4 linked regions of the Homo sapiens genome follow. Changing the gene in region 2 together with the main gene of any one other region gives a genetic interaction. Each region holds a gene or a part of one and is shown on either strand. Other genes may lie near its edges.

Region 1 (3,902 bases), on a different chromosome or scaffold from region 2:
GCCAGGGGATTGGGAGAGATCCTCTCCAGGGCTGGAAGTATGGTAGGAAGGCAATGTTCCCTATACTTCTGATTGCTGGGGACCAGGCAGAGCCTTGGGAGAGAGAGGAGAGGATTCTGGAAAGGGGCCTGATAGTTGACAAACCCATTTCTTGAGAGTAGGCATAGACATGCTGGGAGGGTCCCATGGTGTCCTGGTACAAGGGAGTCACGATGATCTCATAGAGCTGAAAGGGCCTGATGTTCTCTGTAGAGAGAAAATGGGGTAGGCACTTCTGTTAGGGCCTAACCTGTGCTAATGATCAGGAGCTAGCCTCAGACCTCTAGTGAGGGCTAACCTGGCCTCATGATTCAGGGTTAACCTCCACAATATCTTCTTTAGATCATTTGATGAGAATTAGGGAAGAAAAGTGGAAGAGAGAGCTAGAAGGGTGGCAGAGTCAGGGCTATAGAAAAAGGATCAGGTTAGACTGTAGGAAGAACTTCCTGATTATGAGGATATGAAATGAGAACAACGAAGGATCAAGAAAGGCTGGAGAATCCATGTCTCTTGGGCAGTTCAGGTTGTCCCATGCCTATTGTCAGATAAGCACTGCCTCCCTTTGTCCCTGGCCCTGCCCAACTTTCCAGGCCAGCCTCACCCTTCAGCAGAAACCCCGTGGCTCTCCCATTCTGTTCCATCCTCCAGGTCTTGTTGCTATTGCTCGCGCTGGGGGGGCCCAGGCCCCACTCAATCACATAGCCCTGAGGCCATGGATTGGGGGGCTCCCAGCCTACCCAGAGGCTGTGAGGGTCTCGGGCCATGGCATGGAGTCTGGTCAGAGCTGGGCCTGGAGACAGGGTGGGAAATGGTGGAATGAAGGTGAAAAGAATGCAGGCCCTTGAGCCAGAAGCCTGGGTTCAAATCCTGGCTTTGCTATTTACAGGCTGGGTGACCTTTGGTAGGTCAACATCTTAGCCTCAGTTTCCTCATCTGTAAAGTAGAAATGATGATAAAAGTTCCTAACTCATAGGGTCTTAGTGCAGATTAAATGACTTGATGCACGAAACAAGCCTGGCATAGCGCCTGGCATGGAGTAGTTCTTGTTAGTGATAACAGCTAACACTCTATTGTTCTTGGTATGTGTCAGGCGTAGTCCTTGATATATTTTATTTTATTTTACTTTACTTTACCTTACTTTATTTTATTTTTTATGCAGAGACTTGCTCTGTCGCCCAGGCTGGAGTGCAGTGGCGCCATCTCGGCTCATTGCAACCTCCACCTCCCAGGCTCAAGTGATTCTCCTGCCGCAGCCTCCCGACTAGCTGGGATTACAGGCAACCGCCACCATGCCCGGCTAATTTTTGTATTTGTAGTAGAGATGGGGTTTCACTATGTTGGCCAGGCTGGTCTTGACCTCCTGACCTCAGATGATCCGCCCGCCTCAGCCTCCCAAAGTGCTGGGATTACAGGCGTGAGCCACCATACTGGACTCCTTGATACATTTTAATTCACTGAGTCCTCTAATAGTCATACCCAGGAAGTACTACTCTTTTCCCCATTTTACTAATGAGAAAACTGAGAGACACAGAGAGGTTAAGAAACTTGTCTAAGATCACACAGCTAGTAAGTGGGAATATTAGCTATGATTATTGTTATTGTGATTATTAGTCCCACCTTGCGAGGACCAATGTTTAGGGAAAGCAGTGGGTGGTGGCAGCTGATTTCCTGAGAATGAGCAATGAACTCATAGACCAGGTTCCAAGTGGAAAAGCCTGGGGCTTTCTCTCTTGGCTTTCTTGGCAGAATGGGCTGTGAGTGTGTGTGTGTGTGAGAGAGAGAGCTTAACCTGGTCTGGCTAATGATAATAACAACAGCAGACACATGCAGAGCAGTTACTTTGTGCCAGGCACTTGTCTTAACTCATGTACACCCCATGGCACCGCTCAGTAGGTGCTGTTATCATCCCCATCTGCTGGATGTGTAAACAGAGGCCGGGGATGGGAGGTAACTTACTCAGGTCACACTGTTAGCAAGTGATAGGACTCGTTTTTTGTTTTTTTTTGTTTTTTTGAGATGGAGTCTCCCTCTGTTGCCCAGGCTAGAGTGTAATGGCGTGATCTCAGCTTGCTGCAACCTCTGCCTCCCAGGTTCAAGCAATTCTCCTGCCTCAGCCTCCGGAGTAGCTGGGATTACAGGTGCCCGCCACTATGCCTGGCTAATTTTTGTATTTTTAGTAGAGACAGGGGTTTCACCATGTAGGCCAGGCTGGTCTTGAACTCCTGACCTCGGATGATCTGCCCACCTCGGCCTCCCAAAGTGCTGGGATTACAGGCGTGAGCCACTGCGCCCGGCCAATAGGACTAGATTTAACCCAGGCAGTCTAGCCTTTGAATTGATGCGCTTGACCTCTGTGCTCTTCTGGCTGCCAGCCCCCTTTACCTCTGCTTTCTGAGAAGACCACCGGAGTGGGACGAGAGGTCCCGGCTGAGTTATAGGCCACAAGGGCCACCTCCTGGGCTTCTGAAGGCAGGTGGAAGGTGCAGCTGAGCTCTGTGGTGTTGCAGAGGGGCAGGATGGCCCCAGCCTGGCCTGAGGGTCTCCAAGAAACCACATAACCTTGGATCCGTCCGCTGTCTTCCTCCAGGGGCACTGGCTGTGGGGCACAGGAGGAAAAAGAGAAGGGGATGTGCAGCTCATCTTGAGTCAAGGAGAGCCTCTAGGTGGGGTGGATGGATCATACAAACGGAGCCTCCCCAGGCTGGGGTCCAGGCTTCTCACCCCCCTCCCCTTTTCCCTCTGTTCCCTTGTGCTAGGTTCTAGGAAGGAGGGCAGGAAGAAACAAGTTGGTGGACACAGCAGGCTCTTAACTATTCACTGAACCACACTGTGACGTGCGTTACAGTCTGTCCAAAAGCTAACTCAGCTCCCTAGGCACATGCAAAGTGCATGCAAATCACATATAAATGCGTCCACGCCTCCCAGACCTGTTGGAGTCCTAAGCCCCGGTTTGTAGGGATCTGTTTGGACTGCGGGAGGTGTCGAGGTGGAGGGATGGCCTTCAGAGGGAGTCACCTTCCAGAACAGCTGCACTGTCCTGGGGTCCAGCTGCCTCTGCCGCCACCATGTGTCCAGTCTGACAGTGGGGGCTGTGGATGGAACAAGAAGAGGGGGTGCCAGTTGGGGAGGGGCCTGGGGCCTGGACTGGATACTGTTGGCTGCTCCCAGCCTCTCATCACCTCCTTACCCCGTTCGGTAGTTCTCAGCTCCAGGCTGGGGCTCCAGTCGCTCCAGTGGCCAGGCAGGGGCCAGCGGATGCAGCGTATCTGCAGGGTGTAGGCCGTGGCTGGGAGGAGCCCGCAGAGCTCATACTGAAGGGCCTCCAAGGGGAGGGGGCCCACCTGGTGAGGGGTGGACAGGACTCTGAGCCTTGGATCGCTGGGCCATTCTAGGGCCAGCTCGAGCCCGACTTACCCTGCCCCCTGCCCCCACCACCTCAGGCTCTCCAGGTTGCCCTCTGCCTCACCAGTGCCCAGCTGGCTTCTCCACGCTGCGGCTTGTGGCGCAGCTCACACTTCTGATTTATGTGCAGGCCTGGCTGCCATGGCTCCCAGCACAGCTGTAGGCAGCCTGCCTGGGGAGGGGCCGCTTCAGGGCTGGGGTCCATGGTCCGCAGCATGGGGGGCTCCAGTTTCACTGCAAGGAGTGGGGCTGTCAGAAGGTCTCCCTATCCCACCCTAGAGGGCTCTGCCTTAGCTCCCTCTTGTCTCCCTGTCTGTGGTTCACCATCTGTCCACGTTGCCAATGACACGTTTCTGTGGTTCGATCTCTATGTGTCTTTGTTTCTCTCTAGGTCTCTGTTTCCGCTCTTGCCCCAGGGCCTTTGCACTGGTTGTTACTTCTGCTTGAAATGTTTTCCCTCC
Region 2 (5,268 bases):
TTTCCTTCTCCCCTTGTTCTTTAGGGTCTGTCCTTCTGCAGACTCCGTTACCCCACCCTAACCATCCTGCACACCCTTGGAGCCCTCTGGGCCAATGCCCTGTCCCGCAAAGGGCTTCTCAGGCATCTCACCTCTATGGGAGGGCATTTTTGGCCCCCAGAACCTTACACGGTGTTTATGTGGGGAAGCCCCTGGGAAGCAGACAGTCCTAGGGTGAAGCTGAGAGGCAGAGAGAAGGGGAGACAGACAGAGGGTGGGGCTTTCCCCCTTGTCTCCAGTGCCCTTTCTGGTGACCCTCGGTTCTTTTCCCCCACCACCCCCCCAGCGGAGCCCATCGTGGTGAGGCTTAAGGAGGTCCGACTGCAGAGGGACGACTTCGAGATTCTGAAGGTGATCGGACGCGGGGCGTTCAGCGAGGTAAGCCGAACCGGGCGGGAGCCTGACTTGACTCGTGGTGGGCGGGGCATAGGGGTTGGGGCGGGGCCTTAGAAATTGATGAATGACCGAGCCTTAGAACCTAGGGCTGGGCTGGAGGCGGGGCTTGGGACCAATGGGCGTGGTGTGGCAGGTGGGGCGGGGCCACGGCTGGGTGCAGAAGCGGGTGGAGTTGGGTCTGGGCGAGCCCTTTTGTTTTCCCGCCGTCTCCACTCTGTCTCACTATCTCGACCTCAGGTAGCGGTAGTGAAGATGAAGCAGACGGGCCAGGTGTATGCCATGAAGATCATGAACAAGTGGGACATGCTGAAGAGGGGCGAGGTGAGGGGCTGGGCGGACGTGGGGGGCTTTGAGGATCCGCGCCCCGTCTCCGGCTGCAGCTCCTCCGGGTGCCCTGCAGGTGTCGTGCTTCCGTGAGGAGAGGGACGTGTTGGTGAATGGGGACCGGCGGTGGATCACGCAGCTGCACTTCGCCTTCCAGGATGAGAACTACCTGGTGAGCTCCGGGCCGGGGTGACTAGGAAGAGGGACAAGAGCCCGTGCTGTCACTGGACGAGGAGGTGGGGAGAGGAAGCTCTAGGATTGGGGGTGCTGCCCGGAAACGTCTGTGGGAAAGTCTGTGTGCGGTAAGAGGGTGTGTCAGGTGGATGAGGGGCCTTCCCTATCTGAGACGGGGATGGTGTCCTTCACTGCCCGTTTCTGGGGTGATCTGGGGGACTCTTATAAAGATGTCTCTGTTGCGGGGGGTCTCTTACCTGGAATGGGATAGGTCTTCAGGAATTCTAACGGGGCCACTGCCTAGGGAAGGAGTGTCTGGGACCTATTCTCTGGGTGTTGGGTGGCCTCTGGGTTCTCTTTCCCAGAACATCTCAGGGGGAGTGAATCTGCCCAGTGACATCCCAGGAAAGTTTTTTTGTTTGTGTTTTTTTTTGAGGGGCGGGGGCGGGGGCCGCAGGTGGTCTCTGATTTGGCCCGGCAGATCTCTATGGTTATCTCTGGGCTGGGGCTGCAGGTCTCTGCCCAAGGATGGGGTGTCTCTGGGAGGGGTTGTCCCAGCCATCCGTGATGGATCAGGGCCTCAGGGGACTACCAACCACCCATGACGAACCCCTTCTCAGTACCTGGTCATGGAGTATTACGTGGGCGGGGACCTGCTGACACTGCTGAGCAAGTTTGGGGAGCGGATTCCGGCCGAGATGGCGCGCTTCTACCTGGCGGAGATTGTCATGGCCATAGACTCGGTGCACCGGCTTGGCTACGTGCACAGGTGGGTGCAGCATGGCCGAGGGGATAGCAAGCTTGTTCCCTGGCCGGGTTCTTGGAAGGTCAGAGCCCAGAGAGGCCAGGGCCTGGAGAGGGACCTTCTTGGTTGGGGCCCACCGGGGGGTGCCTGGGAGTAGGGGTCAGAACTGTAGAAGCCCTACAGGGGCGGAACCCGAGGAAGTGGGGTCCCAGGTGGCACTGCCCGGAGGGGCGGAGCCTGGTGGGACCACAGAAGGGAGGTTCATTTATCCCACCCTTCTCTTTTCCTCCGTGCAGGGACATCAAACCCGACAACATCCTGCTGGACCGCTGTGGCCACATCCGCCTGGCCGACTTCGGCTCTTGCCTCAAGCTGCGGGCAGATGGAACGGTGAGCCAGTGCCCTGGCCACAGAGCAACTGGGGCTGCTGATGAGGGATGGAAGGCACAGAGTGTGGGAGCGGGACTGGATTTGGAGGGGAAAAGAGGTGGTGTGACCCAGGCTTAAGTGTGCATCTGTGTGGCGGAGTATTAGACCAGGCAGAGGGAGGGGCTAAGCATTTGGGGAGTGGTTGGAAGGAGGGCCCAGAGCTGGTGGGCCCAGAGGGGTGGGCCCAAGCCTCGCTCTGCTCCTTTTGGTCCAGGTGCGGTCGCTGGTGGCTGTGGGCACCCCAGACTACCTGTCCCCCGAGATCCTGCAGGCTGTGGGCGGTGGGCCTGGGACAGGCAGCTACGGGCCCGAGTGTGACTGGTGGGCGCTGGGTGTATTCGCCTATGAAATGTTCTATGGGCAGACGCCCTTCTACGCGGATTCCACGGCGGAGACCTATGGCAAGATCGTCCACTACAAGGTGAGCACGGCCGCAGGGAGACCTGGCCTCTCCCGGTAGGCGCTCCCAGGCTATCGCCTCCTCTCCCTCTGAGCAGGAGCACCTCTCTCTGCCGCTGGTGGACGAAGGGGTCCCTGAGGAGGCTCGAGACTTCATTCAGCGGTTGCTGTGTCCCCCGGAGACACGGCTGGGCCGGGGTGGAGCAGGCGACTTCCGGACACATCCCTTCTTCTTTGGCCTCGACTGGGATGGTCTCCGGGACAGCGTGCCCCCCTTTACACCGGATTTCGAAGGTGCCACCGACACATGCAACTTCGACTTGGTGGAGGACGGGCTCACTGCCATGGTGAGCGGGGGCGGGGTAGGTACCTGTGGCCCCTGCTCGGCTGCGGGAACCTCCCCATGCTCCCTCCATAAAGTTGGAGTAAGGACAGTGCCTACCTTCTGGGGTCCTGAATCACTCATTCCCCAGAGCACCTGCTCTGTGCCCATCTACTACTGAGGACCCAGCAGTGACCTAGACTTACAGTCCAGTGGGGGAACACAGAGCAGTCTTCAGACAGTAAGGCCCCAGAGTGATCAGGGCTGAGACAATGGAGTGCAGGGGGTGGGGGACTCCTGACTCAGCAAGGAAGGTCCTGGAGGGCTTTCTGGAGTGGGGAGCTATCTGAGCTGAGACTTGGAGGGATGAGAAGCAGGAGAGGACTCCTCCTCCCTTAGGCCGTCTCTCTTCACCGTGTAACAAGCTGTCATGGCATGCTTGCTCGGCTCTGGGTGCCCTTTTGCTGAACAATACTGGGGATCCAGCACGGACCAGATGAGCTCTGGTCCCTGCCCTCATCCAGTTGCAGTCTAGAGAATTAGAGAATTATGGAGAGTGTGGCAGGTGCCCTGAAGGGAAGCAACAGGATACAAGAAAAAATGATGGGGCCAGGCACGGTGGCTCACGCCTGTAACCCCAGCAATTTGGCAGGCCGAAGTGGGTGGATTGCTTGAGCCCAGGAGTTCGAGACCAGCCTGGGCAATGTGGTGAGACCCCCGTCTCTACAAAAATGTTTTAAAAATTGGTTGGGCGTGGTGGCGCATGCCTGTATACTCAGCTACTAGGGTGGCCGACGTGGGCTTGAGCCCAGGAGGTCAAGGCTGCAGTGAGCTGTGATTGTGCCACTGCACTCCAGCCTGGGCAACGGAGAGAGACTCTGTCTCAAAAATAAGATAAACTGAAATTAAAAAATAGGCTGGGCTGGCCGGGCGTGGTGGCTCACGCCTGTAATCTCAGCACTTTGGGAGGCCGAGGCGGGTGGATCACGAGGTCAGGAGATCGAGACCATCTTGGCTAACACGGTGAAACCCCATCTCTCCTAAAAATACAAAAAATTAGCCAGGCGTGGTGGCGGGCGCCTGTAGTCCCAGCTACTCAGGAGGCTGAGGCAGGAGAATGGCGTGAACCCGGGAGGCAGAGTTTGCAGTGAGCCGAGATCGTGCCACTGCACTCCAGCCTGGGCGACAGAGCGAGACTCTGTCTCAGAAAAAAAAAAAAAAAAAAAAAAAAATAGGCTGGACCGCGGCCGGGCGCTGTGGCTCATGCCTGTAATCCCAGCACTTTGGGAGTCCAAGGCCGGTGGGTCATGAGATCAGGAGTTTTGAGACTAGGCTGGCCAACACGGTGAAACCCCGTCTCTACTAAAAATACAAGAAAATTAGCTGGGTGTGGTCTCGGGTGCCTGTAATTCCAGTTACTGGGGAAGCTGAGGCAGGAGAATTGCTTGAACCTGGGAGGCAGAGTTTGCAGTGAGCCAAGATCATGCCACTACACTCCAGTCTGGGTGACAGAGTGAGACTCTGTCTCAAAAAAAAAAAAAAAAAAAAGGGTTGGGCAAGGTGGTTCACGCCTGTAATCCCAGAACTTTGGGAGGCTGAGGCAGGCAGATCACTGGAAGTCAGGAGTTCAAGACCAGCCTGGCCAACATGGTGAAACCCTGTGTCTACTAAAAATACAAAATTTAGCCAGGCTTGGTGGCGTATGCCTGTAATGCCAGCTACTCAGGAGGCTGAGGCAGGAGAATCGCTTGATTGAACCTGGGAGGCAGAGTTTGCAGTGGGCTGGGGTTGTGCCACTGCACTCTAGGCTGGGAGACAGCAAGACTCCATCTAAAAAAAAAAAACAGAACTGGGCTGGGCACAGTGGCTTATATTTGTAATCCCAGCACTTTGGGAGGCTGAGGTTGGAGGACTGCTTGAGCCCAGAGTTTGGGACTACAACAGCTGAGGTAGGCGGATCACTTGAGGTCAGAAGATGGAGACCAGCCTGGCCAGCGTGGCGAAACCCCGTCTCTACCAAAAATATAAAAAATTAGCCAGGCGTGGTAGAGGGCGCCTGTAATCTCAGCTACTCAGGACGCTGAGGCAGGAGAATCGCCTGAACCTGGGAGGCGGAGGTTGCAGTGAGCTGAGATTGCACCACTGCACTCCAGCCTGGGTAACAGAGCGAGACTCCGTATCAAAGAAAAAGAAAAAAGAAAAAATGCTGGAGGGGCCACTTTAGATAAGCCCTGAGTTGGGGCTGGTTTGGGGGGAACATGTAAGCCAAGATCAAAAAGCAGTGAGGGGCCCGCCCTGACGACTGCTGCTCACATCTGTGTGTCTTGCGCAGGAGACACTGTCGGACATTCGGGAAGGTGCGCCGCTAGGGGTCCACCTGCCTTTTGTGGGCTACTCCTACTCCTGCATGGCCCTCAGGTAAGCACTGCCCTGGACGGCC
Region 3 (3,902 bases), on a different chromosome or scaffold from region 2:
CGTTAAATTGTTCAAAACCATCACTCCAGCCTTAAGCTACAAACCATAAAACTGGCTTAGCTTACCGTTCAATTTCTGAATTCCAAGTTATCCCTATGAAGAATGTAATTCTTGTAATAAGGAAAGAAAGTCTAGTAGTCCATAGATCTCAACACATCACTAGTAACTCTGGGTAAGTTACAAGGATGCAGAAAGTATTGTGCAAGGTAGTTCTGGATACTTTCCTATATCACTCTCCTTTTTCTCTACCTTCTAAGAAAATATCCACTATCTTTAAAATTGAGCATATCTCTAGTTTCCAAGGGTTTTTTTCTGTTTATTCTCCCAACCCTTCCTGACAATCACCATAACCAACTCATCTTTCTGACATAGTGATGCTCAACAAGATAAAAGACAACACTTAAGAAGATACATTGACGAAAACATCATTTACAATTTTTTTAAGAGAAAGTTTGAAATAAAAAATTATAAAACTAAAACTAAAAAACACACAGCAATTGCAGAAGTTCACTTCCTGTAAGACCTATTAACCAAGAAATATTCTCCCTTAGTCTATCTGAAATCAGGATCCAACTCTTGTATTTAGGCTTGTAAATATTTATAATGTATAAATATATTTTTAATAATTTAAAATGTTAGACAATACTCACTTTGCAATCTTTAAAAGGAGTGGTTTTTGATTGGTTCCTGCTAAAATACTCATCAATGCATGCTTGAAACTTTTTGGAAATGAGAGCTCCATCTTCCCAGCTGCACTCTGAGTATGGAAGGCCCTGCCATTTGCAGTAATAATCAGGATAACCAGCTGCTGACTTTTGATTGGAATGAGCTGTGAGAGAATCAGGCATTTACTTATTTATTTATTTTTTTTTACATTTAATCATCAGATACATAATTCTTAGTAAAGGCTACACAAGTAAAATTTAGCTATCTAGTTTACAATACTGTTTTAGTAAGAGCAAGCTACTGTGTTTGATATGTAAGTGGCAAACTTATGACTTTTTTCAGATTATTTCAAGCATAAAAAGAAAGTTTAACTAGAATCATTTATCACTAACCAATTATACGTTCCACTATTTGATACTGTTTATGTAGATCATCTGTAAGTTCTTGCTGGCAATTATAATATTCCACATCTTCTGGAGAGGCATTTTTCAACCTGAAAAATTATTAATCCAGGAATAGACTTAAAAATCTCCCATAAATAACCTTTCACTCCCCCATCCCCAACACTATTTGTAGCACAAAATCTCCCATTTTGCCACTGTGTGGGCCAAGTTTGAGTAATAAAGAAACTCAAACAGGAATAAAGCATCATTAATTTTTAACTAAAAATTTGTAATTTATAATGTATGAGACACACTCTATGTGACTGTTACCAAGGATAGGTTTAGATAGGTATACCTCTAGGAGTTTTACCTTGAGATGGAATAAAATCATCCCTCACTACCTGCAGGGGATTGGTTGAGGATCCTCTACAGATACCAGAATCTGAGGATGCTCAAGTCCCTTATATGAAATGACATGGTACCTAAAATATAACCCACACACATCCTCCCCCATACTTTAAATCATCTCTAGATGTTCTTATAATACCCAATTTTACATTTACAACGTAAATGCAGTGCAAATAGTTGTTACATGGTATTGTTTTTAATTTGTGTTATTGTTGTTTTTTTTCCCTCCGAATACTTTCAATCCATGGTTGGTTGAAACCAAGGATAGAGAAGCTGTGGACAAAGACAGCCAACTGTATTATAAAGTCTATAGCTATTTTAGGCTATCATTTAATGTTACTATGTATTCTTTATTAACATAAAGGTTTAGTAATCTTTGAACTATTAAAAGAAGTATATGATATACAGCATACTTACCATCTTTTTGTTTCCTGATCTTTTTTCTTATAATTATCCAATTTTTTCATTCCTCTAACATTCTGCTGCTTGAGGGTTTCTTCTGTCTCCCAAGTGTTGTGGATATGGGACCATCCTTTCCATTTAATTAAATACTGAATCTCTCCTGGTTCTTTGTTTTTTTCAAAGCCTGCATTTGGGTCACCATCTGCTTCAACTGCATAGATGGTTGTAGTAGCACCAGTAGCTGAAAACAAAAGCACAAGATCCTTCCATGTAATTAATTCTGTTGTAGGATTATATTTCAACTCAAAATTTCAATAATATGAGTACAAAAATATATACTCTTTTAAATAAAGTATTGGGGGTATAGAAACTTATGGGAAATTCTATTGCTCATAAATAAAACTGAGAATTTCAGAATTATCTAATATAATCCCCTCCTTTTTCGAATTAGAAAAAATAAAAAGACAGAGATCCACCTGAGATCCCACAGCATTATTCTATAATTATCCACAATATATGAAACGTGGTCAGCTGGAGGCCCAGCACGGTGGCTCACGCCTGTAATCCCAGCAATTTGGGAGGCCGAGGCGGGCGGATCACGAGGTCAGGAGATCAAGACCATCCTGGCTAACACGGTGAAACCCCATCTCTGCTAAAAATACAAAAAATCAGCCAGGTGTCCTGGCAGGCACCTGTAGTCCCAGCTACTCGGGAGGCTGAGGCAGGAGAATGGCGTGAACCTGGGAGGCGGAGCTTGCAGTGAGCTGAGACCGTGCCACTGCACTCCAGCCTGGACAACAGAACGAGATTCTGTCACAAAAAAAAAAAAAAAAGAAAAAAGAAATGTGGTCAGGTGGTTATTAAGAAGGTACTCAGGCTAAGCAAAGTAGCTTTTATAAAACATAAGTAAAACAACAACAACAAAAAATCCACCCTCTTAGCTTTCAACACTGTAGAAAAATCTTAAATACTTTACCTTTTTTTTTTTTTTTTGAGATGGAGTTTCGCTCTGTCACCCAGGCTGGAGTGCAGTCGTGCAATCTCAGCTCACTGCAACCTCAGCCTCGTGGGTTCAAGCAATTCCCTTGCCTCGGCTTCCCAAGTAGCTGGGACTACAGGTGCGCACCACCTCACCTAGCTAATCTTTTCTATTTTTAGTAGAGATGGGGTTTTGCCACGTTGGCCAGGCTGGTCTAGAACTCCTGACCTCAGGTCTAGAACTCCTGATCCATCGGCCTCGGCCCCCCAAAGTACTGGGATTACAGGGGCGACCCACTGTGCCCAGCCCTCTACTCCTGTAAATATTATTTAAATAACCAAACAATAAATGGTTTTTTAAAAACTACCTCCTTTTCTCCCAATCCGACAATCCATAAATCTTTCTATGGTTTCAAATTCCTCTTCCTCAGGTTGAGGAACATCCTCTCCACAGACTTCCAGTAGGTCATCAGAATCTGTTTTCATTTCTTCATCCTCCTTATAGCTAACATTAACAGTTGCTTGGCGACGAGAACTTCTTTTATCATTATCATAATCTTCTTCATCATCATCCTCCTCAGATGAATCAATCTGTCTCTTTTTTTGTCCAAGAATCTTCTTTCCATTTTTTGACTTAGATCTAGGAAAGTGCAAAGAGAAAAAAAAACAAGATTTGAGAAACTATATACAAAAAGAACAAATACTTTCCACAATCAATTTTCAGCACCAAACTGAGACCATACCTATTTTGAGGTTTTCTGCTTTTGACTTTGTTTTTTGGCTCATAATCAGATTCTGTTTCATCACAACTGCTTTTCTCTCTCTCTTCTTCAGATTCTGAATCTGAACCAGACTGAGATGGAGATCCTGACCCAGACATTTGCCAATCTTCACTGCAGACAAAATTTATAAAGTATTTTTATTTGTACTTATATGGCAAGTTTTATCCCTAATACAAAGATGATCAAATCAACCAAACTATATTCGCTATCAAAAATACTGTTGCTTTTACTCATGCTAAAAATGAAATATTTATAAAACAAAAACACTCTGGAAAATATTCTT
Region 4 (3,236 bases), on a different chromosome or scaffold from region 2:
AACATTTGACAAAATACCTAGCACAGAGTACTTAAGGATTCAACACATTTTGGCTGCTTCAAATAAAGATTAATTTGTAAGGGATGATAATACAAAGAAGTTTAAATTGCTGCTATGCCCTAATAATTTAACACCCCATGGTCTTTTTTTTTTTTTTTTTTTTGAGACAGGGTCTCACTCTGTTGCCCAGGCTAGAGTGCAATGAAACGATCATGGCTCATCACAGCCTCAACCTTCTGGGCTCAAGTAAACCTCCCACCTTAACTTCCTGGGTAGCTGGGACCACAAGCGTGCACTCCCAGGCCAAATTGTTTTTTCCTTTTTGTAGAGATGGGGTCCTACCATGTTGCCCAGACTGGTCTTGAACTCTTGAACTCAAGCAATCCTCCCACCTCAGCCTCCCAAAATGCTGGAATTACAGGAATCCAACATTTTTAATACAGTAAACCAAACAATTTCTAAGTTTACAATTTATCACAATGCTTAATGATTAAAAGTTGAATAAACTTTTCTAATGCAGTACACCTGGTTTCACAGAAAACAAAGCAACTCTTAAACACCAGCTGGCAAAATGATAGGGCTTTTCCTTTGAATTAGTCACCACAGGTGTGAAAGACAGAATGACTAATCCATCTGATTAAACATAGACCTTTTAGAAATCAATAACCTTATTTACACAGATGACAATTGCTACTGTTCCAAGGCTCCTAATCATGGTTCAGTTCTCAGGGCCTCAAGTCTTTTTCCATTCCATCGCAGAGTAGTACCAACATTTATACACCAGAAACCTGGGGATTATCCTGGCTTGTTTTTCTTCCTCTCCCAGATATGCTCACAACAGAGAAGCCAATCAATAAATATTGTTGAACTAAATGGTTAACAAATTCAAGCCCCTGAATCTCCATTATTCCATCTCCTCCACTACTGCCACTACCCTACTGTAAGCTATTCTATCATTCTTGCTAGGAGAGTTAGCTTCCCAACATCTTCTCTTCCCCATTCCAAACTATTATCCACATTGCAGCCAGACTGAAATTTTTATAACACAAATCAGATCAAGGCACTGCCTTGTTTATAAACCATTCGAAGGCTTTCCATTTTTAGGACTTTTTTTTTTTTTTTTTTTTTTGAGACAGGAGTCTCGCTCTGTCACCCAGGCTGGAGTGCAATGGCACGATCTCAGCTCACTGCAACCTCCACCTCCCGGGCTCAAGCAATTCTCCTGCCTCAGCCTCCCGAGTAGCTGGGATTAGAGGCGTGCACCACCATGTCCAGCTAATTTGGGGTTTCACCATGTTGCCCGGGCTGGTCTTGAAGTCCTGACCTCAGGTGATCCACCCACCTCGGCCTCCCAAAGTGCTGAGATTACAGATGTGAGCTACCATGCCTGGCCATTTTTAGGAAATTCTTAATATGGCCTATACAGCCCTGCATGATGTCTTTCTCTAAACAAAAACACAGAGATGCTACAGTACATTATCCCAACACTATAATTACAACCAGGTTATTGTTTTTACTTACTAGACTGAAAAGTGAAGAGTAAACAGTATTTTCCTTACCTTAACCTCTCCAGCCATTTTATCAACTGCAAATCCCTCAACTGATAGCTGCAAAACAATGGTTTTAAACAGTAAGTGAAACCAAGAGGCTGAGAACAAACTTCCATTTACCCTAAAAATAAATCATTCTGTTCTCTGCCAACTTCAGTCTGTTATAAAGGATGTGTGATGGGAGATGGAGAAGTCCTTAAATAAAGCCAGTAACTATTTAAGGAAACTTTTTTTTTTTTGAGACGGAGTTTCACACTTGTTGCCCAGGCTGGAGTGCAATGACCTCATCTCGGCTCACCACAACCTCTGCCTCCCAGGTTCAAGCGATTCTCCTGCCTCAGCCTCCCAAGTAGCTGGGATTACAGGCACACACCACCACGCTCAGCTAATTTTTGTATTTTTAGTAGGGACAGGATTTCACCATGTTGGCCAGGATAGTCTCGAACTCCCGACCTCAGGTGATCTGCCCACCTCGGCGTCCCAAAGTGCTGGTATTACAGGCGTGAGCCACTGCACCTGGCCACAGGAAACATTTAAAGAGCAAAGACCACAATGTATGGGTGTAGTGAATCATGGATGTCACTAAATAATATCCATGATTAGCAAGCTACTCAAAGTTTTTCACATACCTTTATTAGTCTGGATATTAAGAATCCTCCCTGGTATCGGTTATAAAGTTCTTCCCAGTTGTCCTTTATGAATTTCCAAGCAGCTTTCCTACCATGCTTGCTGCCTCCAGCTACTCCACCAATTACCGATACAGTGTCCTGTGGACGTACCTCTTCCTAAAAAAAGAAAGAGAGCTAAAAGTCTAGTGTATCAAAAACATATTCTGGTACCAGAAAGTGCACCATACTGTGACACTGAAGTAATCACACTGAAGACACTTATTCCTTGTTTTAGGAATAACTGGAACCAGAAGTTCTCAGCAAAGAAGATAATGTTTAAGCTAAAGATAACCAAAATGAGAATGAGGTACTGAGACAGGTTCAGACAGACAGACTGCTCAACAGATACTTGCTTAGGAGCCTATAGGTTTAAGAAAGGAAGAGACACAAAGTAAGCAAAGGCATAAGCCAGTTTCCCAGTTTTCAAGAGTCCCTGTCCTCATAGTTTCCATTCTGGAGAGACAATTTGTTTACTCTCCCAACTATTCTGATTCTCGCCACTAGTGGGAGAAAAACAGAAGTCAGTAACAAAAACTCAAGCCAGTTACTCTGGAAAAGGAAGCTTTAGTTAGGGTTAAGGCAGCTCAAGAGGATCAGAGCTGAATCAGAGACACTTCTCAGAGATGGGTAACGATTCACTTCTAAATGCAGTTTTCACCGTAACTTACTGAAAGTGCAAACGTGAGGACTTTTTGAATCAGGTCAGGCAAAAGAGTAGCGCCAAGGACTCTTTCGATTCGGTTTTTCTCTTCTTGCATATCTGCTTGTTTATGAAGCTACAGGAAAAAAGATAAAGATAGGAATAGTTAACTCTCCCTTGGATGTTCTGCATATGATTATATGAGCTTCTTCCCCAGTAAGGTAAAACTTAGGTTCTATATTCTCACTAGGTAAGAATGGCAGGGCATTATATTAAAGAAAGAGAATACTTTTCAAGATGCTTTGGGCCAGGTGCGGTGGTTCACACCTGTAATCCCAGCACTTTGGGAGGCCGAGGCGGGTGGATCACCTGAGGTCA

What was found.
Region 1: changes in DMPK (region 2) and CSF3R together harm fitness more than expected from each alone (negative genetic interaction), as found in Homo sapiens cells (one large-scale study listed by BioGRID).
Region 3: changes in DMPK (region 2) and CHD1 together harm fitness more than expected from each alone (negative genetic interaction), as found in Homo sapiens cells (one large-scale study listed by BioGRID).
Region 4: changes in DMPK (region 2) and NPEPPS together harm fitness more than expected from each alone (negative genetic interaction), as found in Homo sapiens cells (one large-scale study listed by BioGRID).

What each region holds. Positions count from the first base shown.
Region 1 is NC_000001.11:36,469,012-36,472,913, forward strand, and holds part of CSF3R (granulocyte colony-stimulating factor receptor isoform a precursor), read right to left. Parts: intron 3,676-3,902; coding exon 3,506-3,675; intron 3,381-3,505; coding exon 3,227-3,380; intron 3,129-3,226; coding exon 3,055-3,128; intron 2,636-3,054; coding exon 2,422-2,635; intron 830-2,421; coding exon 641-829; intron 247-640; coding exon 145-246; intron 1-144. UniProt on the Homo sapiens protein: Receptor for granulocyte colony-stimulating factor (CSF3), essential for granulocytic maturation. Plays a crucial role in the proliferation, differentiation and survival of cells along the neutrophilic lineage.
Region 2 is NC_000019.10:45,774,927-45,780,194, reverse strand, and holds part of DMPK (myotonin-protein kinase), read left to right. Parts: exon of another isoform or gene 1-135; coding exon of another isoform or gene 136-325; coding exon 326-417; intron 418-575; exon of another isoform or gene 576-672; coding exon 673-756; intron 757-835; coding exon 836-931; exon of another isoform or gene 932-1,061; intron 1,062-1,553; coding exon 1,554-1,702; intron 1,703-1,974; coding exon 1,975-2,068; intron 2,069-2,321; coding exon 2,322-2,528; intron 2,529-2,604; coding exon 2,605-2,868; intron 2,869-5,160; coding exon 5,161-5,246; intron 5,247-5,268. UniProt on the Homo sapiens protein: Non-receptor serine/threonine protein kinase which is necessary for the maintenance of skeletal muscle structure and function.
Region 3 is NC_000005.10:98,897,606-98,901,507, forward strand, and holds part of CHD1 (chromodomain-helicase-DNA-binding protein 1), read right to left. Parts: intron 3,731-3,902; coding exon 3,581-3,730; intron 3,478-3,580; coding exon 3,206-3,477; intron 2,101-3,205; coding exon 1,875-2,100; intron 1,160-1,874; coding exon 1,059-1,159; intron 830-1,058; coding exon 651-829; intron 1-650. UniProt on the Homo sapiens protein: ATP-dependent chromatin-remodeling factor which functions as substrate recognition component of the transcription regulatory histone acetylation (HAT) complex SAGA. Regulates polymerase II transcription.
Region 4 is NC_000017.11:47,618,108-47,621,343, reverse strand, and holds part of NPEPPS (puromycin-sensitive aminopeptidase), read right to left. Parts: intron 2,995-3,236; coding exon 2,887-2,994; intron 2,336-2,886; coding exon 2,180-2,335; intron 2,067-2,179; coding exon of another isoform or gene 1,972-2,066; intron 1,608-1,971; coding exon 1,560-1,607; intron 1-1,559. UniProt on the Homo sapiens protein: Aminopeptidase with broad substrate specificity for several peptides. Involved in proteolytic events essential for cell growth and viability. May act as regulator of neuropeptide activity.